Regions from separate parts of the Homo sapiens genome. Here region 2 is linked to region 1. Evidence: fine-mapped expression QTL. A gene starts in region 1. The other region holds a variant in brackets. All regions are shown on one strand. Distances are between the middles of the regions.

Region 1 (15,761 bases):
CGGCACATTCTGCAAACACAGCTGTTGGATGAGTGATGAGTTGAGACAGATGGCTTAATAAAAACTACTCGGGAGGCTGAGGCAGGAGAATGGTGTGAACCCAGGAGGCAGAGCTTGCAGTGAGCCGAGATCACACCACTGCACTCCAGCCTGGGCGACAGAGCGAGACTCCGTCTCAAAAAACAAAACAAAACAAAACAAAACAAAAAAACTGCTGGGGGCTTCTTTTCTGAGGAAGAGTTCCATAGACCTGGACAATCCTATATTGCCAGACGCCAACCCTCTCTCCAGCCCTGGCTGAGCCCCCTCTCCAGTGGAAGCTTTGCTGTGTTCCTTAAGGCCTTAGAGCTAGGACTGAGGACCTGTAGTCCCAGAACCAGCATCCTGTACCCCCGGACCCCCCACCACACCCCCCACCCTGCCCCACCTCACCTCCCCTGACAAGCTGCCACCTCCTTCCCTCTCTCCCAGCTCCCCAAGGCAGCTGGTTACATAACTGGGGATTCTGCATTATTTATGACCACTGATTATTTTTTAATTCTGTGATTACGTTATTATCTTCTTGGGGGGCTGTGGAGTTGGAGGGGCAGCGAGCTGATCGTGATTCATGGCTCTCATCCTGCAATTTGGCCTAATTGGCCAGGGAGCTTTGGTAAATCTGTCCGGAGGAGGAGAAGGCAAAGGGAAAAGGGAGGAAAGGAAGGCGTGAACAAAAATAATAAGAAAAAAATCCACGCAATTCTTGCTGAGCTGCAGGTGATGGAGCTGACCCACTTTGGCGCAGCTCCGTGGTCCCCAGCCTCTCCTGCTCCAGCTGCTTCCTGGCTGGGCCCCATTTATCTCACACTTGCATGGCCTATGGCTTTCCCTGCCACCTTCAGACAAAGCCCCTTGCCGATGGGACTGCACAATGGAATGGCCAGGAAACAGAATGCCAGGATGACTGCTTCCTAGGCAAATCCGGTGGGGGATCCTCCACTGCCACCCAAGGCTGGGGAAACGTTGTGCCAACCCCTCCATCTTCCTGAGGTGTTTGGGCCAAAGTGAGCAACTGTGCCCTTAAGTTATATCCCACCCAAGAGTCACCGATGATGTGGGAGACACTGGTGTTAATGCAAGGATCACTATTGAGCCCCCATGTTGAGTGACGCCTGGGGGAGGGGGAAACCAAGGATGAGGAGGCCAAGTACCTGCTCAAGGTAAGCTCAATACCTGGGGGCCAAGGACAGGGGCCCTTAACCCTGCCTTTGGGAGCTTCTGGTGGGTGGGTAACAGGGGAGCAGTGGGGAGGCAGATTCCCACCCAGAAACATGACCAGCAGATTCCTGGAGAGTGTGTGGGATTCTCACTGAGAACGAATCCAAATTCCGTGCATGCTGTGCATGGCTCGACGGAATCTGACTCCCTGCTCCCTCTTTGACCTTTCCTCTACTCTTCTCCTTGTTCACTGCCCTCCAGCTGCTCTGGCTTCCTTAGCTGAACCTGCATATGCCAAGCACACTTCCTCTTCGAGACCTTGGCACCGGCTGCACCCTCAGCCGGGAATGCTCTTCCCCTAGATAGCCATGTGACTTGTATCCTCACTTCTGTGGGGTCTCTGTTCAAAGGCCACCTTATTGGAGACCCCCTTCCTGCCCCCATCCCTGTCACTCTCTATCTGCTTTTCCCACTGGCAGGGAGTGAGACTGCTGACTGCAGGAGAAACTAAAGGGCCCCAGCCAGGAGGCCAGGATGTGGTCCTGACCTCCCTGGTCATGGCTAAGAAACTGATGTGATTCCAGAAAACAAGGCCGTACGTGGAGCTGAGGAGCAGGCCAGTTTTAGAATAATTCATTAAAAACATCAAACAGATACGGAGTGAGCTTTGTGCCTCTCATTGTGCTAAGTGCTTTATATATGTCTCATTTAATTCTCGCAACAACCCTGGGGCAGGGGTAGGGGAGGATGCCTAAAATGTAGTCTCCCCATTTTTACCAATGGGAAAACAGAAGCACAGAGAGGTAAAGTAACTTTCGCAAGTTCACACAGCTAAGGAGAGGGTGGAGCTCAGATTTGAACTACAGGCATCTAGCTGCAGAGCCCATGCTCATAGCCCCTGAGCTGTTCTGCATCTCTTACTTAAGATCTACAGAACTTTGAGGAGCTTAGAGAACCTGCTGGGACTGGCCCGGTATCCTGGAGTACTGGGGAGCCTGGGAGAGATAAGGGCTAATTAACGATTGACCGTCATATCCCTCTGCAGCACAATTTTAGCTTTCAAAGCACTTTTACATCCTCACCTCACTTAATCCTTTAAAAGACTTTCCCCACCAATGGGATAGAACTTGCTCATCGCCCAGGGAGCCAGTGGCAGAGCTATAGTAGGGGTTTGCGAGGGCGAGGGAGGTGTGGGAGAGGGAACTTCAACTCTTCTAGGAGTGTGAGTAGGTGTTGATCCCCGCGCCCCCAGCCCACTGCATGCCAAGCCCCTAATAAATCCTTATAAGATCACCGTGCAGTGCAAATCACCACATCCCAATTTCAGAGATGAGCAAACTGAGGCTGAGGGACCTGGGGAGGAAGTGCTTTGGTGTGGCTCATCTTTCAGTGAATTTCAGGCCATATGCTCGAGAGGATGAGGAGAGTCTGCCATGATCAGTGGCATCAGGGGGCTGGGGAAGGGGAGCAGCAGGCAGAGGAGGAAGATGGCTGAGGGGAATAAAGCTAAGCCCTTCCACTCCGCTGGCCTTGTTCTTTCACCAAGCATATGTGCAGCCCCCCACCCCCAACAGTCTTGTATGTGACTCTCATCTCCACTTCTAAGTGCTTGGCCTGAGACAAGAACACAGCTGGTGGGCTCTAAGCTGGTGCTGCCCAGGTCATGGGGTGAGGTGAGGGAACAAGTGAGTGCCTCTCAACCTTGAGCCTACCCATGCCCCCGATAAAAAAATGCTACACAAAGGGACTGAGGAGAGCCAGGCAGATTCAGCTTTACAGCTCCCTTGGAGAGCCAAGAGCCAAGACCACAGGTTCCAGAGAGCAGGGAGATTCCAACCCTTTTCTCCAAACCGGGGTCTGGCACCCCCCCTTGGTAACCCCATCCCTGGCAAATCCCATCTCACAGGAAGACGGTGATGGCATCTCTTCTTTTGCTTGGGCCTCCCAGAGCTTCACCTGCCTTCCTCCACACTCCCCTCTGCCTGTCACCCTGTGTCTAGACCCTGCCTGGGGGACGAGAGAGTTCTGAGGCTTACCCACTCCCCCAGCTGGGTGCCATTGGCAGCGGGCAGGCAGTGGCATACGGGGTAGGCTCTGGTTGCCGTAGCAACCTGCCAAAGTCTTGGGTGGAGGCACATGGCCTACAGGGTGTGTGGGGGGAGGGGACTCATTTTCTCTGTCCTGGCTGAGGCCTCTGGGCTGCATAGCCTGTGAACCTGGAGCTCTGCTATTGGAGACATGGGAGTGGGTGAGTGTGAAAGGGAAGGAGAGGGCATCTAAACGATCTGCAAATAAATCCTAGAGCTATTGCATCACAGATGAGCATAAGAGATCATCTCTGGAAGGCCCCTGTCAAAATGCAAAGAGATCGCCCAGTAGCTCACCTGCTGAAACCCCAGAAAAGGCATCAGGAACCCGAGTTCTAGGCATACTTCTGCCACTGGTAGGCTGTGTAACCTTGGACAAGCCCCTATTGCTCTCTGGGCCTCAGTTTCTTCAATAGTAAATGGACAGAGCTGGTCTGGATTACCTATGAGATCCTTTGAAGCTCTGGGTGGCTATGCGGTGGGGAGAGGGAACACAGATGCCTGGAAGATGCCCAACTGGGAAAAGGCTGGGAGTTGTATCAGAGTTGACTCCCAGGCCTAGAGTCAATCCTGGCTCTTTGTGGGTACCTGCCGGGGCATAGGTCTCATGTCCCTGGCCAAGACTGAGACTTTGGACAGTTCCCATGGCCCTGATCTAAAATAAGATGGAGGCAGGGGGAAAACTGTAGTGCCTTGGACCCAAGAGTTTGGAGGAGGAAGCGTTCCGCAGGGGCATCTGGCGCTTGATCTCCAAATTGTACTGTCCAAAGATGTGCAACCCAGACTATGGCCGGCCCAGTCCATGGGCAGAAGCACCACCACCTCAGTCTGCCTGAAGCAACAGTCATTCTCATCTTCTGAGATGGGATTTCCTGGTAGGCTCCACGAGGCTGACCCTGGACAGCTCTTGTCCTGGCATCTCTATGCCCACTCCCTATCCCATTCTGAACACAGTGCCCTTCAAACAACCCCTCCTCCTTGGCTCTCAGGCCAGGCTGCAATGCCACTTTGCCAGCCTGGAGTTGGTACCTACCATCACCCCACCTCTTCAGCCTTCCTAGAGCCCCTATCCTCCCTGCACAGCTGGCCAGGGAGAGCTTGAGCCCATAACTCCAATTCAATCACTCTCCCTGCCATCTCTGCAGGGGCCCTGATTACAAGGAGTTGAAATTTGCCTAAAGCCCACCTGGCTGGTATAATGGCACCCAGTGGGCAAATTCAGGCTAGCAGCTCAGAACGCTGGTCATGCATTTTGGACTCGAACGCAGCACAGGGGGCAGGGCTGAAGACATGTGTACCTCATTACCCTAGCGATGTGAGAAGCAGTAATTAAACCAGGCTCCACTTAGAAAGACAGAGAGGGACACACACATCCCAGCATTTCTCAGTGGCTTTTCAGCCTTGGCAAAAATATTTAGAACAGTGGGATGGAGACTCGCATCCCCTTAGGGAAGACTCCTGCCCCTGCCAAAATATGCAAGGAACTCTGTTATCCACTACAGCACCCCCAGACCCATTCTTACCCCCGGACAAAGAGGACATAGCTGGCTTAAATTTTTCCAAGATCAAGGGTTCTCAGTATCTGTGTGATTTCTAGGGATATGCTTTGAGCTGGGCCTCAAGCAGTGGAAACCACCTCAGCACAACTATCTGCACTCTCCCAGGGTCCCTTGTGACCAGATCAGAGTCTGGGAGACAGATGGTGGGTTCAAGGGTCAGCTTGGGTCCCAGAAGGTTGTCTTCCACTAAGAAGCTGTGGCGGGATTCAGTCCTTACTGGCCATCTTGGCAGCCCTTTGTGCTAACCCAGAGCTCCAGGCCCACTGACATGCTGCTCAAGTAACCTCTACAACACCGAGGCCCCTCCAGCCTTGGGGTCTGATGAGATTTTTAGCAAAGCAGATTTGCGGAAAGGAGAGCAAGGAGAAAGAAGGTCCCCAGTAGAGTGACACATGTGCACGCAGCTTTGCACACTCCAACGTATTTATGAGTACGTTTTTGTGCCAAACCCAAGAAGGTTGGCTTAGGGTCTGTCTGGTCCCTCCTCACCCCTCACTTACCTCCCTCAGCTCCTTGGCCACCTCCTTGAGCTCGCGAAGGATGCCCTCAAGCTGCCCGATGACCATCTTCATGCGCTGTCGAATCCGCTCCCGCTCACCACCACTGCTGGGGTCGTCACTGGGCTGCCCGAGGTCCGGGGCGCCCCGAATGTTCATCGTTTACCACGTGGCCGCAGGCCTGCCCATACTCCCCCCAGCTGGGCACACACTGCGTCTGCCTCCACGGAGCCCCCCTCGGCTGGGCAGAGCTCCACATTTTAACGGCCCCCCAGCCCACCCTGGCCCTGGGCGGCCCTCAACCAGCCCCTGCCCCCTGCCACCCAGCCTCCTCTGCCTCTGGGTGGAGAGTGGGACACCCAGAGGGAGACAGAGTCTAGCAGAGGGGGTCAAGGTGAGGACACAGGAGAGGAGGGGGAGGGACCTTGGGTCCCAGGAGTGGCCTCCAGGTCTTGAAGTGCCTGTGGGTGTGCAGAGCTGATCTCTGCCTGAGCTTGAACACAGAGGCAGGGGGATGACTCTGCAGGGACTAAGGGTAAGAGATGCCCTTGGGATGGGGGAAGGCAGCAGGGATCCCCTCACAACTCCTAGGCAGTTGCAAAGGCAGAGGTCTCTGGATGCAACTGACACCTGCAGAGGGATGGTGGCCAGGGTCTTCCAGATGTGGAAGGGGCTCCGGATATGGGCAGCTCTGGGGAGGGAGCTGGATTGGAAGAGGGCAGCCCCCTGCGGAGAGAGCGAGCCTGGCGTCAGCCCTCCCAGGCTGCAGCACCAGCCGGCAATGCCGCTGCCTCCCTCCTCTCGCCAGCCTGCACCCTTCCTCGCTGGGGATTTTTTTTTCTTTGTGGGGAGGGGTGGTGGAGGCAGACGGTTTACAGCACAGCCCCTCCTCTAGAGGGAAAGGGAGGGAGCCCCTGCTTTAGAAGCAGAAGTCCTCAGCCTGCTACGGGGCACCCTGGCCGTAGCTCCCGCCCTCCCCCCCCACCTTCCCCCCAGCCAGGCCTGCCCAGGCTGGTTCACCAGAGGGCCTCTCCAGTCACCCATCCTCCCTCCTAGCGCCCCCAGGGTGCCCTCGTTCCCAGCGGACCCTCCCTCCCCCAGCCCCGCCTTCCCTCAGAACCCCCACTCCTGGACTCACCGAGGGTGGGGGCACCGGCCTTCCCTCCAAGCAGCGTCGGGGGCCAAGCCCCAAGACGGAGTTGGGGGGCCCCCAAGGCTCCCTAGGGCGGGCTTCTCTCTCTGGACCCTTCGGCCCCGGGCCTCAGGGAGGTCCTCCGAGCCGTGACCGGAGACATCTGGGCGGTGGGAGGGGGCGGGGCCTCCGCGCTCCAGGGAAGGGGGCAGGAAAAATCTTTCTCAAGCCTCTCCAGGCTCGGGGTCGGGAATGAGCGAGGGTCCGGCAGATTTGGGGCTCCGAGGCCACAGGTGACCGGGGCGCGGGGAGGCCGAGGAGACGCCGGGCAGGTCCCAGCGCGTGAGCCAAAGTCGGAGGGCTGGGAGGGCGCCGGGATCCCCTCAGCCCACGCCCGGCATTCCCCGGGCTCTGCACCGTCCGGGATTCGCTCTGTCCAGTCCAGATCGGCCGGGTCCGTGTTCCGCTGGGGTCTGCCCTGCCCTACCCCGCCCGGAGTGAGCTGGCACCGCCGGGCGCCCGGGACGCGCTCAGCCCGGACCCAGAACGTCCGTGCCCCGGCACCCGCGGCGTCCGGAGCGGCCGCGAGGGTCTGCTCAGCCCAGCCCCGCGGTCGGCCCTGGGCGAGACCGCTCCCACGGCTCAGTTCACGTTCCGAAAGGTCCGGAATCCACCGGGTCCCCGAGGAGGGGCGATGTCAGCCGCGGGGACCCGGTCCCCGCCGGGCCCAGCCGAGAGCGCGCGAAGCCGGGGGCCCCGGCCGGGCTGGGTTCGGCGGCCCGGGCGCAGGCGGGAGCAGCGCCGGGCGGAGGAGAGGAGAGGAGGCGAGAAGAGGCGAGGGGAGGAGGCGCGGCGAGGGGAAGGGAGGGGAGGGGGCGAGCGGCGGGCCGGGCCGGGCCGGGGCGCACTAGGCTCGCAGCCTCCGCTCGGCTCCGCTACCTCCCGTCCGTTCGCTCTCGGCTCCCCGCCTCAGCAGCCCCCGGGCGCCGGGTCGCCGCCGGTGGGGCAAACAGGCGCCGGGTCGGGGCTGGGCCTCCCTTCACCGCCTCGCCCTGCCCTGCCCCGCCGGGCTCCCGGGGCCTGGGCCCGCTCCCCAAGCGCCGCGGCGCCGCGCCGCCCGCGCCCCGGCCGCCCCCGGCCCGCCCCGCCGCCCCCCGCCGGACTGGCCGCCCGGGCGGGCGCTGGCTCCCTTAAAGGCCGCCCGGCTCGCTTGGCTCCGCTTGCCTCGGCGCTGTCAGGGAAGGGGCCGGCCCGCCGCGCCGGGAGGGAGCTTTTAAAGCGACACACACGCCTCCCAACCCCGAGGGCCAAGCGTGCGAGCCAGGGGGGTCTCGCCACCCGGGCGAGGGGGAAGGGTCTCGCTGGCGGGGCTGGAGGCGGACTGACCGGACCCCACGCCGGCTGACCTGGGGCGCGGAGGGACAGCGTTCTGGGGACTTCGTTCCTTTCCCACCTCTCCAGACACCCCCATTGCCCCCTTCCCCTACTGCACTGCCCCCAAGCTTCCCTTTTGGCCACGTTTCCCGCATCCAGACCCTCCCTTCTACCACCCACATAACCCAGCCCCTGACCTTGCCTGAAATCACATTCATTCAGAAAATAGAATACTGCCAACCTTTCCTGAGAACCTACTGTGTGCCAAGCTCTGGGTCGGCAGGGCTGGGGGTTGGAGGCTGTCTTGGACACCCATCGTTTCCTTCAGCTATTCAACAATTGACTCATGTATTAGAGGCCTTCTGTGCATCAGGTTCCATGCTAGGCTCCGGGGCCACCAGAGCATTTCAGGAAGCTCACGGCTCGGGGACACTCCTGAGTCACAACAGAGGCAAATTCTGGAAGCAATGTTAACAGGGGAGTAGGGAAGTGTGGGTTGGGTGGTGCAGTTCAGGCCAGGGCCTGGCGGGTTCTGCCAGGTAGGCCACCCCTGAGCTGAATCTCAAAGGAGGAGTAGGAGTGACTGTCAGTGTGGGGGGTTGGGGATCAGCATTCCAGGCAGGGAGGAGGGTGGGAGCACAGGCTCAGAAGCAGAAATGGGAGGAGGGGAGTTTAAGTTAACTGGGGCCTTTTAGATACCATTTTGACTGCAGACCACAGAGAGACTCAGAGACCATGGTTAGGAGCTTAGATTTTATCCCGGGGCGGAGGGAGCTTTGATATTGGGAGGAACCTGGGCCTGCTTGCCTTCTCAGGAAACCCCTCTGGGGCATTGTGAGTGGGTGTGAGGAGGTGCCACCGAGATAGAGCAGTTAGGAGGCTATTTCACCGTTGGCCAGAAGACAGTGGAGTCTATGAATCTATGCTCATGAGAGAGGCTGGGGCTTGAGAGTAACATTTTGTTTGTTTTTTTTTTTGAACCATCATTAGAGGGGTGAGATGAACAGGGACGCTGCGTAGAAGTAACAAAAGCAGTAGTTCTGGGCTGGAACCTCAGAAAAGAGTCCATGAGTGAGAGGGAGGAGTGATTAGAAAGATAGGAGAAGAACCAGAAAGTGGAGAGTTATGTAGGCCCAGTAGGAGGAGTTTGGGAGAAGCAAGTGCTCATCAGTGTCGAACGCGGCAGGGAGTGGCTGTGAGAGAAGGAACAGAAAGTGTCTATTTGTCTTGGTACTCAGGAGGCCACGGGTGACATGGCAGGGGCAATTGGTTTTGGAGGGTAGAAGGTGACAGGAACCAAACTGTTGGGCATCGAGGACTATGTGCCCAACAGTGAGGAACAGGAGTGAGTACAGATGACATTTTCAAAAGTTTAAGTGGCGGGGAAGCAGAGATCTTGAACTAGAGGCAGAGGAGGGGTCAAGGGAGGTGGGGCTAGGTGGTGGTTTTAGGCTGGCCCATGGGGGACTTGAATTCCAGAGACAGTGATGGTACTGTGGGTGCTAATGATGTTCCTTGGTCTCTGAGTTATCTCAGAGATGTATTCACAGGGGGCTGCTGGGGGAACTGACTCCTACTTCCTTGAGATTCAGCTCAGGGGTTGCCTTTGGAGAACCAGAAGCTGTGAGGGTGGGAATCCAGCTGCCCTGGGTTGGGGAGATGTTCTTCTGATGGGGTGGATCCAGAGGGCCCACCAATCACTTAAAAAATTGTAGCAAAATATGCGTAACATAAAATCTACCTTTTTTTTTTTTTTTTTTTTGAGACAGAGTCTCGCTCTGTCACCCAGGCTGGAGTGCAGTGGCGCGATCTCGGCTTACTGCAAGCTCCGCCTCCCAGGTTCATGCCATTTTCCTGCCTCAGCCTCCCAAGTAGCTGGGACTACAGGCACCCACCACCACGCCCGGCTAATTTTTTTGTGTTTTTAGTAGAGACGGGGTTTCACCGTGTTAGCCAGGATGGTCTCCATCTCCTGACCTCGTGACCCGCCTGTCTCGGCCTCCCAAAGTGCTGGGATTACAGGCGTGAGCCACTGCGCCCGGCCTAAAATCTACCATCTTAACCATTCGTAAGTGCATAGTTCAGTGGCACTAAGTACATTCACATTGTTGTGTAACCATCACCACCACCCATCTCCAGAACCTTTTCATCATCCCAAACTGAAACTCTGTGATTAAGAGCTGATAGCAGCCACTCTCTGTGGAGCACCTACCAGGCACCAGGCACTGGGCCAAGTACTTCCACATGCATTATCTTATTCCATCTCACAGTGACTTTCCATCACCCCTCCCCCCGCCAGCCCCTGGCAACCACCATTCTATCTTCTGTCTCTGTGACTCTGACTACTCTAGGTGCCTCATATAAGTGGAATCACACAGTCTCACCAATCACTTTTGTGGAAGCAGTGATGCTAAGGAACAGCCGAGACCAAAAATGGGCTAAGCCTGAAAAAAAAGAGTTTCTAGTCTTAGGTCCAGGGAATCATCCGCCCTCATCCAGGATGAGGGAGATGTGTTTGAACTGGCAAGGTTAGGAGACAGTGAGCTTGATTGGACAGGGTGGACTGTGACTGCTTAATACATAATTGATCTCGGGTCTCATTAATAGAAGCACAGTGTTTTGAAAAAGGGAGGTAACATTTCTTCTGTCATTTGTGTGGATCAAACTGTGCCTAGCACCTCAATTCATTGGGTGTGTCCATAGGAGGACAGCCAAGTAGAATAGGGGAGGTGACTGGTGTATATGTTCTATGAAGGATGGTAGGGCTGGTCAGAGCAGGCTAGAGAAGAGGAGACTCAGGAGAAGGGGTCTCTGATTGTAAATCTCCAAAGAGCTGCCACAGGCGAGAGGGAATAGATAGTATCTGGGTGGTGCTCAGACCTGCCTTCCTTAGTGTTTGGGGATTGATCCATCCTTTCTTCCACCCAACCTCCCTGGCCACCTGCCTAGATGTCCCATCCTTTAGATCTCTGCTTATTCACCGCCAACCTCCACCCTCTAGGCAGCCTTCCCTAGTGCTTTAGTCTACGGAGAGAAATGGAAGCACTTTTTTTTGCCCTTAACCAAATGCTTCCCAGGGCATTCATTTAATGTGCTAGCTGTGTGACCTTGAGCAAGTCACTTAACCTCTCTGAGCAAGGATAGCAGCCTATAAACATTTTAATTCTTTCTTGAATTGGGTCTCTTGTAAAAAAAAAAAGGGGGGGGGATGTATTTCACTGTCTCTCTGATTCAGAAAAATCAGGACAATAATGACTACTTTCCAGGGTCACTGTGAACATGGAATAAGATAATGCACATGGAAGTACTTGGCCCAGTGCCTGGCACCTGGTAGGTGCTCTGTAAATGGTAGCTGCTATCAGCTCTTATTCATGGCTTCATGTCTGTAAGCCTTATTTCCATGTGAGTCTGTGAACTCCTCATGATGGGCTTGTGTGTGTCTGCCCATCTCTCACATGGACCACTGCAGTAGACAGTAGACAGCGATTTTTACCTGTCTGCCTGTTTTCCACCATCCAGTTCTAGCATTCCTTTTCTTGGGGAAACTCCCTGCTGTCATCACATAATCCTAGTGGGTTGTCAGTTAAAGTGCCCACTACTCCCACCCATCCCTATCCCACTGCCACTAACTAGGCATGTGACTCAGACTGCACCAACCGTGGAACCCCATCCTCCAGCAACAGTGATTGGTCCAAGGGGTGGGCACATAACCTAAGCAGGACCAATCAGATTCTTTCCCTGGGATTGATATGTGGATGCTGGGAGGAAGAACCCCTCTTCCTAGTGGGGTGCAAAACTGGATGTTATGGTCCAAACCTGCTGACAAGCCATTTTTCCCACTCAATCTAGGAAGCTGAGCAAGGCAGCAGAGAGGAGAGGAATTTAGAGAGCATGCTAGCAGCATTGAGTCCCAGTTTTTGTTCTCATGGCCTTCACTCCTGCAGTTCTTCTTTCAGTCTGGAGAGCTGCAACAACATCCTACTCATCTCTAAGAGCTGATAAATTCCTCATATTGCTCCAGTTCGTTTGGTGGGGTCTCTGTCTCGTGTAACCAACTGGAGCCTGACAGATGCACTCAGGAAATACTAAATGAGCTGACTAAATGATTGACTGAGTAATTGGGTTCCCAGATGGGGTAAGATGTCTCCAAATCCTGAAGCCAGAGGGTTGGGACCTGCTGCCCTGTGGCCATGGAGGGGAAGTGGGGGCATTTGGGAGATTATTGCAACAGGCCAACTTGGATTTGGGCCCCAGCTTTGTCATTTGCTAGCTGTGTGATCTCAGGCAAGTTACTTGCCCTCTCTGAACTTGAGATCCTTTGTCTATAAAATAGGCAAAGTACTAGTGACTGCCTAGGGTTGCTTTGAGGATGGAATGAGATAAGGAGCAAAAAGCACCAAGCACAGTGCCTGGGGTGTGGGGGTGAGGGAGCAGGAGTTGGAAGAATGGTAAGAAATGGTAACTGTTTTTATTTAGTCTGCAGTCTACTCTCTCTAATAGCGCAGGACTGAGACTGGCATGCAGCTCAGGAGAGAACGAGGATTCAGTCTGCAAGCTAGATTCTCAGAAGCAATGGATCCTGACACCAGGGAAGCAGTGCCGGGGTGACAGTGGGCATGTTTGGGCTTCGAACAGATAATAGAGACAGTAGAGAGAGTCTACAGAGAGAAATGGAAGCACTGCCTAACACTTAGGCAGTAGAGTTGGAATGATAGGGCACCAATGCCAGCTTTTCCATTAACCATGTGACTCATTTAATCTTCCCAAGCCTAAGTTTCTCGTTCTGTAAATACCTTCCTGGTAGCTGTCTTGAGGACTAAATAAAACAGTTCATGTATCATGTTCAGCACAGGGCTTAGTAGGCGTTTGATAAGTATTACCTATTATTATTGATATTGGGGGCTTAGGGAAATTTTCTAAACACAAAGGTTGGGATGAGTGGCAGTCAGGTGGGATCAGAGGCAAACTTTTCATGACAAAGTCCCCAAATAAAGGAGTTATAGAGAATCATATCTGAATAGCCAAGGAAAGGCCATTTCAGAATGACAGGGTGACATATCTCCTTCTGTGGCTGGACAGTGTCGGGTTCACACTGGGAAAGCCATGTCTGAGGACATTTCTGTCATCTTGCTGCCCACAATAATCTCCCCAGCTGAGTCAAGTTTCTCAAGAGTTTTCTACACTGACTCCTTCCACTTCCTCACTTCCCACTCACTCCTCAAACCTTGTAACCCGCGCCTGCTGGCACTGCATTGCTGGAATAACCCTCACTGTGCAGGACATTATCCTTGCTAAGACCAGCAGACACTTTTCTTCCCCTATCCAAGGCAGCGACCTTGGGGGACCTGACCCTGCTGAGCTTGTCTTACTTCCGGGTCCCCTGTCCTGTGTGGCCTCATGTCTCCTTTCTCTACTGATTCCCTTCCTGCCTCTCTGGCTGCTGCTTCTCAGTTGGCTTCAGGTGTTCATCTTCTTTCTCTGGCCCCTTAAAAGTTAAGTCCTCAGGGCCAGGCACGGTGGCTCATGGCTGTAATCCCAGCACTTTGGGAGGCTGAGGGGGGTGGATCACGAGGTCAAGAGATCGAGACCATCCTGGCCAACAGGGTAAACCCCATCTCTACTGAAAATACAAAAAAATTAGCTGGGTGTGGTGGTGCGTGCCTGTAGTCCCAGCTACTCAGGAAGCTGAGGCAGGAGAATCACTTGAACCTGGGAGATGGAGGTTACAGTGAGCCAAGATTGCACCACTGCACTCCAGCCTGGTGACAGAGTGAGACTTCGTCTCAAAAAAAAAAAAAAAAAAAAAAAAAAAGCTGGGTCCTCGAGATTCTCGTCTAGACTCTCTTCTCACTCTATACACCTTCCGTAAGGGAGCTCTTCACACTCCCAAAAAGTTTTTGACTTCCAATTCACTGTCTCCAGAGGAGACCTTTCCAAAGCTTCAGATCATATTGCCACTTGCCTACTGGACAGTTCATGAGGTTGTCTTGCAGGCACCTAAAACTCAACATGCCCAAGTTGGAACCCATTACCTTTCCTCCAAATGTATCCCCTTTTGTCTTCCTAATTTCAGAGAATGTCAATGCCCTCTACTCCTCCATGCACGCCACAAACTTGTGATCGCACTAGAGTCAGAGCCAGAGTTAGAGCCACCCTAGAGCCAGAGCTCTTCCACATTTCTTCAGTTACTAAGTCCTGTTGCTTCCACCCACTTTATCTCCCTGTCGATAACCAGGCTCTTGATTGCACCCATGAGCCCCTGTATTAGCCAGCAGCCTCCTGATGGATCTGCTAATCTTCACACTTACCCTATGAAGTCTGCTGTTGCTGTTGCTGGTACCAGCCTTCTGATCTACCCACTTATGACCATCCACAGCTCCCTGTCTTTATGAGGAAGTCCGGTCTCCCTAGTTTGGCGTCCACATCTTTCCAGGAGCCTGCCCTTGTCTAGCTCTCCAACCTCATCTCTATTGCCTCTTGCTCTCTGTGCCTCTGCCAGGCTGAACTGCTTTCAGCTTTTTCCTCACCACCACCTTATACCTGCCCTCCTCTTTGCCTGGAATGCTCCTCTCCTCTCTCTTCTCGAGACCAACCCCCAGACCCTCCTGAAATATTCTTCCAGTGTGCAAGGTCCCTCCTCTGCACCACCCCAGAGCCCTCGTCCACCGCAAGTACAGTGTCTGCCACACTTCCTTGCCATTGTGAATCCAGCTCTCTTCCACAGACCACATGCTGCTGGAGAGCACCTCCATGCCCTTGACATCCAGTAGAGCCAGTCAAAGTCAGTTCTCAAGGCATGTTTTGTAAATATTGAGTGACTCTCTCAAATAATTATTTATTTTGCATCTTTGTTAAACACACTATTTTAAAGATGACCCTAAGGTGGAAAAAACTGGAAGGAAGGGGCATGGCACATAACTCAGGGGTCCCCCCAACACGTACCCTGAACCTTAATGGCCTTCCCCAGAACTCTAACACTCAGACATCACTTTCCCCAGGAAAGACCTGTATGCAAAGCCCTGCTGTGTGACTTAGACCAAGCATATGCCCTCTCTGTGCCTCTACTTCCTCTTCTGAAAATGGGATGTTGGGGTATTACAGGAAGATGATATTTTGCAGAGTACTTTCAAAGAATCTTCAGTTAGCTTGCCACGGCATGGAAAAAGTATGCTGTTATCATTTCTGCCTGCCTTCTGGGGAATTTAGGCTGCCCATTACCCTACTCCCCATTCTCTTATCCTTAAATCTCTCTCTCTCACTTACTCTCTCTCTCTGTCTCTCCTGGTTCCTTCCCATCAGCATTTAAACTGGCTCTCTAAATTCTTTCATCTTACAAGTAAGATCCCACTTCCCTCTCCAAGTACTGTCTCGTCTTTCCTCTTTCCACAGCCAAACTCACGCCAAGAGTTGTCCCCATTCCCTGCCTCTCCTTCCCTGGCTCTCACTCATCCCTCTTCCTTGCAATCTGGCATCCGCCTCCACCACTCCCCTGAAAAGCCTTTAAATGCTAAACACACCCGTGACCTCTAAGATGCTCAATCCACAGGACACGTTTGAGCCCTGATCTGACTTGTCTTCTCACTGCATTTGGACATTCAGCCGCCTGTCCTCTCTCGGCATCAGGGATTTCCAGCCTTCCTGGATTTCTGCAGGCTGCATGTTCATGGCTGGCTCTCAGCTTCCTCTGCCCACTTTCCACACTGCCCAACTTTGGATGCTGGAGTTGCTCAAGGCTCAGTTCTGGGTCCTTTGCTTTCTCATGTCTCTCTCTGCCTCCTCAGTTGTATATCCTTCTCTGCTGATTGCCGTTACTACCAATATGGCCACGAATCCCAAATCCACATCTCCAGCCCAGATTCTCCAATTCCAGACTCATGGATCCATCTTCATGTCTTCCGAGAAGCTCAGATTCAAA
Region 2 (15,761 bases), 25 kb after region 1:
GTATTGTGCTGAGTCCCATGAATGTGAACTCATAACTTTTCCCGCATCACCCCCTAATCCAGGATGGCCTGTCAGGCAGGAGCACTGTGACGCCTAAGGGCTTGAGCTGGGGCTCTGGAGAGCTGGATGGGGTGTCAGCTTGTCCCAGGGTGATCTTTCTAAAGGCCAGTCCAATCACATGACTCCCTTTAGTGGCTCCCCATTGCCTTCAGCAGGAAACTCGAGCTTCTGTGTGCATTTTCCAGGCCTCTTACAACTGGCCTCTGTCCACACCACTTATCACCTCCAATCTCTCACCTAGAACCATATAGGACCAGAACTCCTGGAAGGAGGCTCCCCCACATCTCCTATGCCTCCGGCCCTCTCACTTGGCTGCTCTCCTGCCTGGAATGTCCTTTCCACCTTCCTTCCCAGGCAGGACTTATCAGTCCCTGCTCTTCCGACCCCACAAAGCTCAGTTACTGCGTCATTGCTACTTACCAGGGGGAGGTTAGTTTCTATGTTCACCTCTATCTCTAGAAGCCCCAGGAGGTTGAGGACCTGCCTGATCCACCCCATCTCATCTCCCAGCCCAGTGTCTGCCCCATCACAAATGTTGCTCAATCAGCCCTAGGTCAAACATTTTGTTCACACTCATGGACCCCCTACTTGACCCACCGCCTGTGACCTGCAGGGTTCGCTGTCCCAGTGGTGGGCACTGAGAGGCCCCAGTCGCAGGCCTCACAGGTGGCTGCAGCTCCCTGGAGCCTCTTTAGAAAATGCAGTCGGCCTTGTTTCCTCCTCAGAAACAACGACTTAGCACAGCATCCGGGCCCCAGGGGAGAGTGTTCCCCCCTCAAAAGCTGCTGCCATTGGAGATGCAGGAGAGGAAGCCAAGTGGGCCCAGGAGGGACCGGATGATTCGGGGTAGATGGGAGGGAGTGAGCAGGAGGGGCTCTGATAGGCTGCATCCCTGGGGTTTCCTGCACATCCCAGATGCTGGCACCTGCTCTGGGCCTGGGCCGGCAATAGCTCTGTGTCTGGCTCTCCACCGGGCCTTGGGTGCATCCCCTGATTCCCCCAGGGTCTTCTCACCCGACTCTCCATGGGATCCATTTTCAACTCTCTGTGTTCCCTCAACTACTAGGCAGCCAGCTAGAGTCCTCACCTCTTCAGAAAAGCTGATACTAGTTAAGCATCCCAAGTCTGAAAATCTGAAACCTGCAATACTCCAGAATTTGAAACTTTTTGAGCGTGGACATGATGCTCAAAGGAAACGCTCATCAGAGCATTTCAGATTTGGGATTTGGAGATTTGGGATGCTTAACCAGTAACTATTTGTAAATATTCCAAAATCTGAAAAAAAAATCCCCAATCGGAAACACTTATGATCCTAAGCATTTTGGATAAGGGATGTTCAACCTGTATCAAATGGAGGGCTGCTTGGCTGCTAAGCCTGGGGTGGGACAGGAGCAGCCCAGACCTGCCCCTTCTTTTTTGCCAAGCAATCCTGAGTTACACAACACATTCCTGGCTACTATATAATAAGAGGTTAGGTGACATGACTTCAAGGGCATCGGAGTTGGGTTGTGGAGTCTGGCAGACCCGGGTTCAAGTTCTAGCTCCACCTCTTGCTAACTGTGTGATTTTGGGCAAGTTACTTAGCCTCTCTGAGACCCAATTTCTTCATCTGTGGAACAGAGTACCTACCTATGGAGGTGTTGTGAGGATTACATGAAATGACTGACTGACTATAAAGCACTTAACACAGTGCCTGGCACGTAGTCGGAGTTCAATGTACATTAGCTGTTTTATAAGTTACAGGTCAGCACAGGCTGGGCCATAGCTGTCGCTTCATACACCTTTGTCCCCCATGCATGGGTGGAGAAACTGAGGCCCAGAGAGGAGCGGGACATCACATCGCTGCATCCCCTTCATCAGCCTGGGCTGACACCTACTGAGGAGCTCTCTGCTGTAATGGTTTCAATCACAACAAACCTGACGCATGGAGTCTTAGATCTTGGGCTTGCCTTCTGCACAGCCTGGCACCCTCTTGTTTAAGAAACCTTTACATTGCACTAAATGCCAGGAACAGTTATAAGCCCTTTATACGTATAATAACAATATTATGCATATTAACCTTAATCCTTCTAGCAAACCCATGAGAGAGATACTATCATTATCCCCATTTTACAGATGAGGGAATGGAACAGTTCGAGGGCTTGCCCAAGGTCACACGGCTAGCAAGTGGGAGGACCACTATTCACCAGCAGGGATGCCATCGACAAGGTTTCCACCCTGAGGTGAACATAGCCTGGGCTCTGTGGTGTGATCATCGCGGGGTGATCTGGGGTGTCTGGGGCACCTGAAGCCTGTCTTCTCCCTGCACCCTGATGCTCGGGTGGAGGAGGCATTTTGGAGGGGACTTGGTGGCCTGTGACTGGGCACAGCGGGAGCATCTGCTTTGTCCTATTAATGCTATTCACTAGATGCCACATCTCAGGCCACAGCAGGTATTTCCCTCGAGAGAGGACAGTGAAAACTTGGAACAGAAGAGCTTTTTATTATTCAGAATAACTGCACTATTTAATTTACTATTAATAATAGCTCTTGAGTCAACCTTCTCCTGAAGAGAAGTGAGAACTGAAAGGATGTCCCTCTCTTCTCTCCCCTCCTCCCTCCTTTTCTGCCTCCTTACTTCGGAATGCTGTGAACTCAGTCACGAATGATTGAGCTGTTTTGGGGGTAGGAGTGGGAGAAATGGAGGCCCAGCTCATGCAGCGAGCCTGGTTACTCCTCCTCCCTGCAGAGCCTTGCTCTGCTGCTCCTCGGGGGTCCCTGGAGGCCATGACCCATCTGTTGTCAGATCCCTCCGGGAAAGAGGATGACCTGTCCTCCTAGGCTGGGCTGGAGGCTAGAGGCCAGGAGGCTGTTTCAGCTGCAGCAAAGGGAAGGCTGCATCCAGCAATCCTTGCCCTCCTTGTCCTGAGGGCAGGAGTGTGTGTGCTGAAATAAGAAGATGGGGATCCCGTCAGAGACCCATCTTCTGCCCTCTGCATCCAGCGAAGGGCTCAGCGTTAAGAAGGAGCACGTCCAGAGAGGACTACAGCCAGGAATGAGACTTGAACCCAAGCCAGGGGAGGAGGATTTGGTTTGGAGTTCAGAAGAGTTGGGGGACTGAGAACTGCTTTCAAAGAACCTGAGGGATTTGGTTCTTCATCTACAAGCCCTCACTGAGGGCCTGCTCTTCCAGGTGCTGGGAACATGTGAAGCCCCCAGAGGGGCAGAGGCAATGAGATATAACTAATGCTACTGTAAGGCAGTGCTCCAAGGACAGGACCACCATGTCCGGTGAAGTCCTAGGAGGTGAGGACTTGGCTTGCCTCATTCAGAGCTAAATGGGCCTCCTGGCTCCCTGAGGCAAAGGATATAGATGGTCTTCTAGGGTTGACTTTATCCCTTGGGCATTTATTCAAGACGTCAGGCACGCTCCCGGCATCTACATCCTTGACTCTGCCTCCTGTATTGGGGCCCTGTGGGATCTCAGGTGTGTCAGGTGGCCCACTGGGGCTGACCTTCCAGAAGATAGAGGCCTGTTTCTCTCTTTCTCCTAACTACCCAACTGTGCAGAGCTAGAGGACAGTGGCTGTCCCCACAAAGGTCTCTCACGGCTGCAGACCAGCACCCCGTCCACCTCCTCTCACCCCTGGGACATAGCCAACCAGCCTGCTCTCCTCTTGTCAATCTCCTCACACCCTGCCCATCTGTAGAGTGGGCTGAATCCTAGATATCCTTAGGTGATTGAAGAGTGCTTTCTAACACTCTGGTGCGGGGTGGTTTCGGTCTGGCTTTCCGAACGTGCCAGAGCTGGGTTCCACATACCTGCATGCACATACACTCCTAAGCACACACGCTGCCTCCACGCATCCCGGCTTTCATTGTGAGGGCCCCACTCTTTATTCAAGGAGCGGTCTCGGGTGTCTGAATGGATGCTTGAAGGCTCCGTCTTTGCAATTAACACGCTGCTGCAGTATTATTAGCCTCTGATAGGCAGGTCTGCCTTTGCCAGAAACTATAAATATGTGGGGCCAATGACTCAGCAAATCTGTTGCTATTTTTCTTGCAGGTCCGTGTGGATCTGTATCTGTGTACACCATGGCCCCATCTCCCAGCAGCTCCCATGGCTTGTATCCATGGAAACGCAGTCCTCCCCAACTATGGTTCTCTGCTGACAAAACCTGGGAGTCTCCCCAGCCCCCTACCCACCTCGGAAAAGGAGCGTGGACCACACAGGCTCCAGCCAGCAGGAGGGCGGCACTGTGGAGGAGGTGGCCACTTTCTCAGTTGCTTTGAAGGGCCAGGCAAGGCCAGGCCTCCAAGACCTTCCTCCGCGGGTCTGTGGTCAAGGCCTTGTCACCTGCTTAAGGGGAGCGGCCTGTTGAGAGAGCCATCACTGAGGCCCTGGGCCCTGGTGGGATTCAGTTGGCAGGGCAGTCCCTGAGGGCTGTGGGCAGTGCGGCAGGGGAGGGGGGGGGAGGGGTTACTGCCCTCACGAGTGGGGAGCACTAGCACTTGGGAGAGGGAGGCTGAGGAGTAGGGAGAGGGCCAGTGGCAGTGAGGTGGGGGAAGGGGATGTGCAATGTGGGATGAAATCTTGGAGCCTTGGCCGGGCACCGTGGCTCATGCCTATAATCCCAGCACTTTGGGAGGCTGAGGTGGGCAGATCACCTGAGGTCGGGAGTTCGAGACCAGCCAGACCAACATGAAGAAACTCCGTCTCTACTAAAAATACAAAAAAATTAGCCAGGCGTGGTGGCACATACCTGTAATCCCAGCTACTTGGGAGGCTGAGGCAGGAGAATCGCTTGAACCTGGGAGGCAGAGGTTGTGGTGAGCCGAGATCGTGCCATTGCACTGCAGCCTGGGCAACAACAGAGAAACTCCATCTCAAAAAACAAACAAACAAACAAACAAACAAAAAACAAATCTTAGAGCCTTGGCTGTGTCAAATAAGCTGTGGGATAGAAGAAAGAGCATGGCCTTGGAGTCCCTCCCTCTGTCCCTCCTTTCCTTCCACAAACATTCGCATTTGCTTCTTCTGGACCAGACTCTATGCTGGATGTGAAGACCCAGAAATGTTTCAGAATTAGACTCTTTCTCCTCAACGACCCACAGTCTCGGGAGAGAAGACAGATTCTTCATCAAGTCAGAGAGCTCAGGGGTCCTGAAGGTCAGGATGGTTGTCTGTATCAGAGCAGTGGGGCACAGGAGGGTGGTCAGAGAGGCCTCCTAGGGAGCTGCAGCCCAGGGGGCAGGCCAGGAAGATGAGGCAGTGTGTGGGACGACTGGCAGGAGGCAAGAGAGGGCAGTGCCGGGAGCCAGTGGGTGAGAGACTCGCGCACTAGAGTTCTAACTCTGGCTCCTGTTGGCGGTGCTCCCTGGAGAAAGCCACCTAAGGTCTCTGGTGTGTAAAATGGGAAATGGCAATACCTACCTTATGGGCCAGGATGGAGGATTAAATAAAACATCTGGCCCCTCATGCAGCATTTATTGTATTCATTCTATGCCGGGGCTGTCCCATGCCTTTTGCTTTCCTCCCTACAGGGTCTCTGTCACTTCGTCTGTCAAATGAGGGAGCTGGGCCAGATGATGTCTAGAGCCTCTGACATTCCCTGTCCTCAGTTTCCCCGTTTTTGAAATAGGAAGAAGAATCTTCCAACACGCTCCAGAAGTGAAGGAATGGATCGTGGAATCAACAGATATTTACTAAGAGTAGCTTGGGACAGGGCGCAGTGACTCATGCCTGTAATCCAAGCACTTTGGGAGGCCAAGGTGGGAGGATTGCTTGAGCCCTGGAGTTCGAGATCAGCCTGGGCAACAGCAATCAAAAAATCAAAACGCCGGGTGTGGTGGCATGTGCCTGTAATCCTAGCTACTCGGGAGGCTGAGGTGGGAGGGTGCTTGAGCCTGGGAGGTCAAGGATGCAGTGACCCCAGTGAGCCATGATTGCACTACTACTGCACTCCAGCCTGGGTGACAGAGCAAGACCCTGTATGTTCAAAAAAAGAAAATATAAAAAAAAGAGAAAAAGAAAAAAGCAGCTTGCTTTTCCCCAGCTTAGGGAAAGCAGAACCCAGACAGATATCACCACTGCTACCTCCATGGGATGTGGAGGAGCAGGACACCCAGCACTCCCAATGTGGCTGGAGAGGCCCAGTGTGGTCTGCAGCCATGGAGCAGTGACTCTGGGTGTCTCGTGTCGCTGCTCTGCTGCTTTCTCTCTTCCTGTGTCTTGTCTGTCTTGGGTAAGGAAGGACTTGCTCAAGGCCCTGGGATCTGATTTCTAAGGACCATCTTGCCCACCAGGGACCTCCAGACCCTTAAATCCTTGTACTCAAAGCCCTAGGGAAGCTGAGGATCAGGCTGAGGATCTGAAATTATTAACACCGCTTTGTCATATCATAGTGGAGTCTCACACTGAGCCTCTGAGGTAACCCCTATTGCTATCTCCATTTTGCAGGTGAGGAAACTGGGGCTCAGAGATTTTAGGGACTGGCTCAAGGTCACCCAGATGCAATGGCAGGACCAGGATTTCAATCTAGGTCAGCATGACTCCAGCCCCATGTTCTTTCTGGGGCTCTGTACCCACCCTCTGGAACTCTGGTAAACCTCCTGAATCCATCGGGAAAGTAAAGGAGATATAAATAGCACGTGGGATTGTGAAGTGAAAAAAGCAAGTTGCAGAACAATACCTGCAGGATTATTGCAGTCATGTAAAAGAACTACTTGAAATGATGCGTCTATATAATGAGATAAATGCACAGAAGCAGGTCTGGAGGGAGATCTATCCAGGGTTGAATGGTATTCCCCTCTGGGTAGGGTTCAACATATTTCAGAATTGGTTAAGTTTTTATTACAATGAGAATGTATTTATGTACTACTTGTGCAATAACAACCTCCCTCTCCCATAAGGCAGGAGATGGGGTGACCCACCTCCTTATGACATGAGCCATGTAAAGGCTGGGGCAGGTGGAGACCTGCAGGGGAATGTAGGCTCATGGGAACCTTGGAGACAGAATGGCAGTTTTATGTCAGAACTCTTTGTGTGTTTTTCTTGTCTTTTAACAGCCTGGAGAGAAACTCCTTCAGTCATTTTACAGTGAGGAACCCTTGGCTGGGTGCAGTGGCTCATGCCTGTAATCCCAGCATTTTGGGAGGCTGAGGTGG[G/A]TGTATCATTTGAGGTCAGGAGTTCAAGACCAGCATGGCCAGCAAGGTGAAACTGCCTCTCCTGGGCGTGGTGACATATGCCTGTAATACCAGTTACTCGGGAGGCTGAGCAAGAGAATCGCTTGAACCCAGGAGGCGGAGGTTGCAGTGAGCCGAGATCTCACCACTGCACTCTAGCCTGGGGAACAGAGTGAGATTCTGTCTCAAAAAATAAATAAATAAAAAAGAAAGACAGAAAGAAAGAAGAAAAAAAGGAAGGAAGGAAGGAAGGAAGGAAGGAAGAAAGAAAGAAAGAAAGAAAGAAAGAAAGAAAGAAAAAGAAAGAAAGAAAGAAAGAAAGAAAGAAGGAAAGAAAGAAAAAGAAAGAGAGAGAGAAAGGAACCCTTAAATCTAGATAGCCTCAGCCCAAGGTCAGAGAGCTTTGTTGCCACGGATTGGTTGGTTAGTAACTTGCTTTATGTTGAAGACAGGCCTGGCTTTGACTTTATACAGTTACTTGCAGATTCTTTGAACCTCAGTTTTCCTACCTGTAAAATGGGATTGATATAGCTACTTTGAAGAGTGTTCGTGAGGATTCAGCAAGATCAAGTTTGCTAAGTGGCCATCACCGGACAGGGGCTGTTTTCAACATCATTCCCCAACCCTCTTTTCTGTTCCCTTTGTCTAAGGAATGCCATTCTAGACTCAGCATGGTGCAGATGAGACATAGGCTTTGGCCTGAATTGGGGCTTGGCCACGTCAATTATTGGCATCTAACATTGAGGACATATTAGATGTCAGGAATCATGCTAAGGGCCATACATACAACTCCCTTAATCCAAATCTTGCTGCCTACCTCAGAGGTGGGCACCACCTATTATTATCCCCACTTTACAGATGTGGGAATTGAGATATCAACATCACCCTGGCCTCATAAAATGACTTAGGAAGAATTTCCTCTTTTTCTGTTATCTGGAGGAGTTTGCATAATAAGGTTTGTTTATTTACACTTAAATATTCACAAGAATTCACCAGGAGAATCATCTGGGCCTGGAGTTTTCTCTGTGAAAAGAGTTTTGACTATAAATTCAATTTCTTTAGGAGTTCTAGAAGCAGTCCTGTTCCTCTGCCCATGCCTCCTCCTTAATCCTCAGCTCCCAAATCTGAGTCCTGGAGGAGGTGATTATAATTGCAGGCCCTGCAAGGTACCCCCAGTTTTATTTACCCCCCATGTGGACACTCTGGCCTTGACTCTCCTCCTTATTGAATGGCAGGGCAGAGTGGGGTGGGGGAGGAGGCAGAATGCCAAGAATGAGATCCGACTTTGCTATCTTGGCTCCAAGCTTGCACCTCTCCCTGCTCTGGTAAGCTGTAAGGAGCAAGGCCTGTGGCTGGAGGACCCATCCCTGAGGCCAACCTTCTGGGACTGTTCCTGAGGATCCACTATGCAAGGTGCACTGGGCCCTGTGACAGCTTAGCAGAGCAGAGCTGCTCCACCTGGCATTGGGATCTCTAGGAGAAGCTCGGTAAACCTAGAATGAATGAATGAGCAAGTTAACAATGACTTCCTGAATGACTGGAACACCTGCTCTAGGTACCCAGCTTAGAAAGGTTAAAAAGACACTTCATCTGGTGCAAGGCAGACACATGGACACATGGTCCATGACATCTTTGGTGACAAATGCTGTGCTACGGGTGGCATAGGGTACTGTAGGGGTACAAGGGAAAATGTCTGACCCATCCTGGGGGTGGGTGATGGGGGTGGCAGGGGCTTTTTGGAAGAGGGGACACAGGCTGAGTCTTGAAAGACACTAGGAGTTAGTCAGGAGGCTGGTGGAACTGGGAGAGAGCATGGGGTAAGAAAAGCAGGGCACTTCCACAGAAGGGGAAGACACTGCATGGTCCCTGAGCTCGGTCTATTAGAGAAGCTACTGGTCACTCAAAAGTCAGCCTCATTTCCAGGCCATTTATTGCTCCAAAGGATCCTGGACTCACAGTGCATTGGAAGCTCAGTGTTCTGACCTTTCCTGCCAATATCAAGGTCAGGGGAAAGAGATCCCTTTCTACCCGAGCTCAGCATTTCTAACTGGAGGAGGGTGATAAAACAATTAAGGATGCATCTGACAGTGAGTAAGAGAGAACCTAATAAATAGTGTCCTAACTGTTTATTAGGGTGCAGTGGGGGTGAGGAGGGTATTTATTCCATATAAAAAGAAATTCAGGGATGGGCAGTCTGGGGCCACCAGGCCGTCAAGGCTCCAGGCTCCTCTCATTGTCCCTTCCACCAACCTTAGTGTGAAAGCCTTTGTCTTCATGCTTGTTGCCTCATAATTGCAAGATGGCTGCAGCAACTCCACACCTAGATCCAACTTCCAGGCAGAAAGAAGATGGAAAGGCTGAGGGGAATGCCAGTTCTGTACCTTCTAGAAAGAATGTCCTGAAGCCCTACCCGGTGACTTCACTCCTATCTCATTGACCAGAAGTGGGTCCCGTGGCCATCTCTAGGCCAGTCACTGGAAGGTGGCTGGGGAAAAAGGGGTGTGGAGAGGCTTGGGCCAACCAGCCAGGAGCATCTGCTACAGGTGGTCACCCACCCCAGAAAGCACAGCCCTCAGCCCCCTAGCTGTGAGAGCCAGCAGAGGCAGGGGGGAAGCTGGCCACTCCAGAAAGGTCTCGCTTCAACAGTCATTCAACAAATGCTAACCATTGCCCCCACTGTGCCCAGCAACTTGGGCCCTGGAGCCCAGTAGAGGAAGTGAGCTTTCAACACAAGGCCAGGCAGAAAGGAGAGCCAGACCCCAAAGCAGAGAGCCCCTCTCTGGGTGGGAGCATCAGAGGGTCCCAAGCCTGCCAAGGCCTTTCCTTGCCTTTGAAGAAAAGGAGATTAAATAGGACCAGCCTCAAAACCCCAGCAGAAAGGACCTGGCCTCTTTATCTGACTGACTGATGAAGTGGCTTCCTCTGGGGGTTGAAGGAAGGTATGCAGATAAGTGTGAGTAGTAGTTACGCCACGATCATTCAGGAAGAATTGGGGTGGTGTGGGGGCGGGGAGAGGTCACTGCTGTGCCATCAATGTCAGCCTCACACAGTGTTGCAGAGCCCAGGCTCATCCCCTACTCCTCCCATTTCACTGATGTAATCTGACATAGCCTTCCCCCTTGGAGGCCTGAGCCCAGGAAGTTACCTTATGTTACCGCCCAGCAAGGTCGCTCAGGCCTTCTTGAGCTTGCCCCGTGATTCTGCCAACCAATTTCAGACAGAGCAGATCACTCTGGGTCTAGTAGGAAATGCCCAGGTCTGGGCATCAGAAGGCCTGTGTGACCTTGGACCAGTCAGCCAACCTCTCTGAGCCTTTACTGACACCTTGTGGCAGCTTCTGCCCAAAACCAAAGTGCTTGGGTGAAAATAAAAACCTGTATTTCCCTTCCACTACTCCCCTGCCACTATGCTCTGGTCTGAGTCACATCACTGCAGAAGGATAGCCTTCCAACACACCTCCCCATCCCACCTCTCTAGGCCACTGTCCTGAAAGAATCAGTGAAAAGGCTTCCCAGGGAAGCAGTTACGGCTCAGTCCTCCAGTCTCCAGTTGCAGGTCTCAGAACTCAGTCCTGCACAGTACTAGTACTTTCATCAGCTCCAGGATGAGGATATGGTGGACACGTGCTTATCACATGATGTCAGAAAATCTCCAGAGGCCAGGCATTGGTGGCTTATGCCTGTAAGCTTTGGGAGGCCAAGGTGGGAGGAGTGCTTGAGGCCAGGAGTTCAAGACCAGCCTTGAACAACATGGTGAGATGAGACCCCATCTCTACAAAAAATTTAAAAATTAGCTAGGCATAGTGGCACATGCCTGTAGTCCTAGTTACTTGGGAGAATCGCCTGAGCCCCAGAGGTTGAGTCTGCAGTGAGCTGTGAACATGCCACTGCACTTCAGCCTGGGTGACAGAGCGAGACCCCGTCTCAAAAAAAAAAAAAAAAAAAAAGAAAGAAAGAAAAGAAAATCTTCAGAAGGGAAAAGTAAGTCCACAGCCTCTCCTAGATTACTGCTTGGTCATGTGTTTGTGTGTGTGTGTCTGTGCACATGTGCGCTCACATCTGTGTACACAAACACCTGTGTGTGTTTTGTCATGGACCTGGGGAACTTCCTACCAGGCTCCTGCAATGGAATGGTTTCAACCGAAGCTCTAGCTGGGACAGGGCCCCTCGTTTTTGGCTTTTGAGATGAACGCCCCAACCTAGTTAGTTATCAGTGCTCGGTTTTCTTGGCTTCCTTTCCTGCCCCATCTATATCCTCTGTCTTCCAATCCCACCATCCAAACCTGCTCCAAACCAGAGGTTTAAATGAATCTAATAAAACCACTCCTAGAGGCAGCTGTTCATGGCTAATAAGGGTGCCCAGAGTGGATGGATAGGTTGGGAAGGGCCTTCCAGGCCTAGCGCCAAACATTATTGGTAGAATTTCAAACCAGGTCTCTGTGGCTAAAACTTTGTCTCTTCCAGGCTACTGGTCTGACCCACTGGCACAGGGAAGCAGTTTTGGGTATGAGGGAAAAGCTGTCCTGAGCTCTCCACACCTCCACCCAGCCATCTGGGAATTCTGGGGTAGGGTATGATCTGTGGATGTGGCTTGGGGACTTGGCGTGGACCTGCAGTGGTTGGCTGGCTCCACTCCATCAAGAAGATTAAGAGGTAATTGAGCAGCTGTTCTGGATGAGGGAGTTGCTGCTTGAAAGTTGGAGGTTGGCCTGAAACCCTCCCATTAAATGTGCTTGTCCCTGGGATTCAAGAGCTCTCTTCAAAAGGCAGGGAGCCCATCCAGGCCCTCCTATGGCTGGAAGAAACCAGTAGCAACCCAGAGCATATGGGGAAACTGAGGATCAGAGAGGAGTAGCTGACTCCCATTTTACCAGGTTGAGTGTCATGGCAGCCTGCTGCCTGAGGTTGGGTGGTATGGCCAAAGGTGGTTCTGGGCCAGAATCCTTCCTGCTGGGCTCCAGGAACCTCCTCTCCTGTTGGTTAAGAGCCAGGAGTGCAGGCTTTTGGAGCCAGGGGCTAGACCACCCTCCTGGCACTGCTATATTCCAGCTCCTTCTCCCCACCCTACAACACTGTCCCTAACGCATTTTTCCATTACTTTTGTGCTCTGAAACATTCGATGGCTCCCTATCACCTCCAGGATCTGCTGCAACATTCCCTGCTGGCCCCTCCCCGCATCACCAGCCTCACTCTGTCTGGACTGCCTGCTACTCTTAGCACCCACCTGCCCTCTGCCCTCTCCTCCATCTCCACTGTGGCCTTCCTGCCATCTTCCCATCCCTTAAAAGCCATTTCTCCAGGAAGCCTTCCTGTCTCCACTCCGTAATTGGGGCAAGCTACTTAACCTTTCCAAGCTTCAGATGGCACCTCTGGGAAAAAATGAGGGAATAACAAGATGCTGCCTCCAAAGGGTTGTCGTGAGGCTGTCACCAATGAAATAATGCATACCCAGGGCACATCACAGTACCTCTTGTACAATGAGGACTCCAACAAAGGATGCTGGGTCAATTTCATCATCATCATTGATATGTTATGGCTATCTCATCGTGAATTGTAGGTCCCATAATCCCCATGTGTCATGGGAAGGACCAGGTGGAGATAATTGAATCGTGGGGCACAGTTTCCCCCATCCTGTTCTCATGATAGTGAGTTAGTTCTCATAAGATCTGATGGTTTTTATAAGAGGCTTCCTCCTTTACTGGGCACTGATTCTTCTTTCTCCTGATGCCATGTGAAGGACATGTTTGCTTCCCCTTCTGCCATGATTGTAAGTTTCCTGAGGCCTCCCCAGCCATGCTGAACTGTGAGTAAATTAAACCTCTTTCCTTTATAAATTACTCCTTTATAAATTACATCTCAGTACATGTAATGTACATCTGTAACGTACATGTAATGTACTGAGTAATGTACATCTCAGGTACATCTTTATTAGCAGCAGGAGAATGGACTGATACAATCATCATCATCAACCACTCTTCCTCCTCCTTTCTGTGGAATAATAAGGGGATAATAAGAGGGACTCTGTGGCTCCCTCTTCTGAGCTGTCAGAGTACCCTTGGTCTCTGTCCTGTGCTCCATTTAATTAGAGAAGCAATGTGTGGGCATGCGCCCCTCCCCTCAGACTCCTCCATGGCTGGGTCCTGAACCCCTGAACTCCAGGGCCCAGGACAACAGTGCTCACACTTTTGAATCTCAGGACAGCCTGAGTTGCTAGGCTTTCTTCCTCAGCCCTGGAGAGCACTAATGGTGTCTTTCAAACCTGGTATCCTGGATGTGTGAGCGTGATTGGGTGGGGGCCAGCCCTGGGCTGGGCTTTGACCCCCTCCTCGGGCCTGATGAGAGCTCTCATTACCTTCCTTCCTTGCCAGCTAGGCCTTGGGGTGAAGCCAGCCCTCAACCTTTGATGGGAGGAAGGCTTAATTACCCCCTCAGGCAGAGGGAGAGGATAATGAGGAGCAGATGAAAAGCCTGGGAAGGTTGCTCCTTCCAGAGGCCCCCACCTCTTAGCACCCAGGCTGCCCCCGGCCCCACCTTCAGCCTCTTTGGGCTTAGGTTAAGGCCTTGCACCCTGGTCTGCAGAGGGCCCCAGCACCCATGGCCCTTGTGTGATTCACAGATCACAGGGATTACCTTGGATTCTCTCTACCACAGTGCCTGAAATCTCATTAGCACTTCCTATTGGGGTCACACCAAGCACTCCTACCCAATCTAGAAAGAATGGTTAGAATTTTTCATACCACACTGGGATCCTGGGACAGTTTGGATAAGGAAGCCATACATTAAGGCCTCTGGTTTGTATGAAACCTGAAATTTGTGATGGAATGGGAAGCAAAGGACAAATTTCACAGAAGGAAGCCAGTGGAAGGGGTCATAGGCCTGCCTCCTCTTGGGGCTTGGCTGGGGATTTGTGGTTGGGACAACATGGCTGGGCTTGGAGACTCTCTTCCCTCCATTGCAGAGCAGCTGAAGGGCTTGGTGTGTTCTTGGCTCTCAGTGGGCAGGCAGGAGGGGAAGAGGAGGTGTCAAGTGTGTCTGGGCAACAGTGACAAAAGATGAGGGAGAGTAGTTGGGCAGACAAGTAAAGATCATTCTTGCAGGGCAGGCCCAGGATCCTGGGTTCTTTCTTGTGGGGGGCACGGGGTGATGTGGGTAGAACTAGGGTGTTTTGTCTTCTTGTTCCCCAACTCCTGGGCCATCCCTTGGAAATGCCACTGTGCTCAGCCCAACAGGGAAACCCTGAGGGCTCTGGCCCCACAGCTGCACACAGGCTTGCAGGGTGTTTAGCTTGAATGCCAGTCTGTCCTCCCCGGCGTTGTAGCAGGACTAGCCGCAGACAAAACCTCTCAGACACCAAGATGTAGAAGGAAGGGCTTTATTCCGCTGGGAGCATTGGCAAGCTACTGCCTTAAAATCCAAGCTTCCCGAATGCACAATTTCTGTCCCTTTTAAGGGCTCACAACACTAAAGATTTCACATGAAAGGGTTGTGACTGATTTGAGCAAGCAGGTGGTATGTAACAGGGGCTGCATGCACCGGGGGTCAGAGAGAAACAGAACAGGGCAGGGAGTTTCACAATGTTCTTCTATACAATGTCTGGAATCTATGAATAACATCGGTTTCTAAGTTATGAGTTGATTTTTAACTACTGGGTTTAGGCCAAGCAGGCCCAGGCCTGGTTTCGGGCCTGGCGCCAGGCTACCTGTCTTTGGTTTTACCTCCTTGTTGTTTTTTCTTAAAACAGGTACTGAGTATAAAACAATATAAAACAATATGAGAGGGTCTCTCTCTTCGCTCAGCGTGGGCACCTCTGGAGCAGGACAGTGGAGAGGGGCCTGAGGAAAGTACTTCTGCCTGGACTAGCACCTGCCCCGGTCATGGTTCCCCAAACTCCCCATTAGTGCTAGTTCTTCCCAAAGAGGCATCAGAGGGGCAGGGAGGTGCTGGGGGACACTGTGGTCCATGCTGCCATTGACTGATTTTAGGGTCCTGGGCCAGTTAATTTACTCTTCTAAGACCTAGTTGCCCCATCTGTAAAATGGGGTTTGTAACAGTATCTCAAGGTTGTAGTGAGGACTAAAAAAACATAGTGTATGTAAAATGCTCAGCATAATGCCTGGCATGGGGCAAATGCTCACCACTGTTAACTGTTATTACAGTTATTATTAATCCCGCTGGGCAACGTTTCTCAACCTTTTTAAATTCCAGGCTCACTTGTGATAAGCATACAAACCTCATACTCCTCCCAGTAATAGTATAGGATTTAAAACATCAAGGAAATAGAAGGTTGAGGCAAAAAACAAATCGAAGCACTTATTATATAGAACATGCTTTTTCAGATGAGAGAGCACCCCTGCCCCCGCCCCCCCAACACACATACACAATTGAGGCTCACTACAGGGGTGGGAGCTGGGAGGACTGGCAGCCCCCTCTGAGAGGCCTCAGGGTGGAGGGCCAGGAGCACAGGGTGGCCTCTGGTGGGTGCCTCTCCTCCCTCGCTGGCCCACAGTGGCCTCTGGATCCCAGCCCAGCCTCCCAGCT

Evidence for each region.
Region 2: its variant is fine-mapped to the expression of INSYN1 in esophagus mucosa (GTEx, PIP above 0.99). The same link has a PIP of 0.9 or more in unexposed skin.

The regions. Positions count from the first base shown.
Region 1 is chr15:73,745,632-73,761,392 of GRCh38, forward strand. INSYN1 (inhibitory synaptic factor 1) reads right to left here and starts at 7,720. Exons shown (of 3, transcript NM_001039614.3): 1 at 6,479-7,720; 2 at 5,344-6,066. The coding sequence starts at 5,499. RefSeq lists an enhancer at 5,837-6,610.
Region 2 is chr15:73,770,926-73,786,686 of GRCh38, forward strand. No RefSeq gene overlaps it. Among named protein-coding and RNA genes, the nearest start is that of INSYN1-AS1, 11 kb to the left of the region's middle. RefSeq lists an enhancer at 3,639-4,838. The variant G/A (reference allele first, on the strand shown) is at 7,207.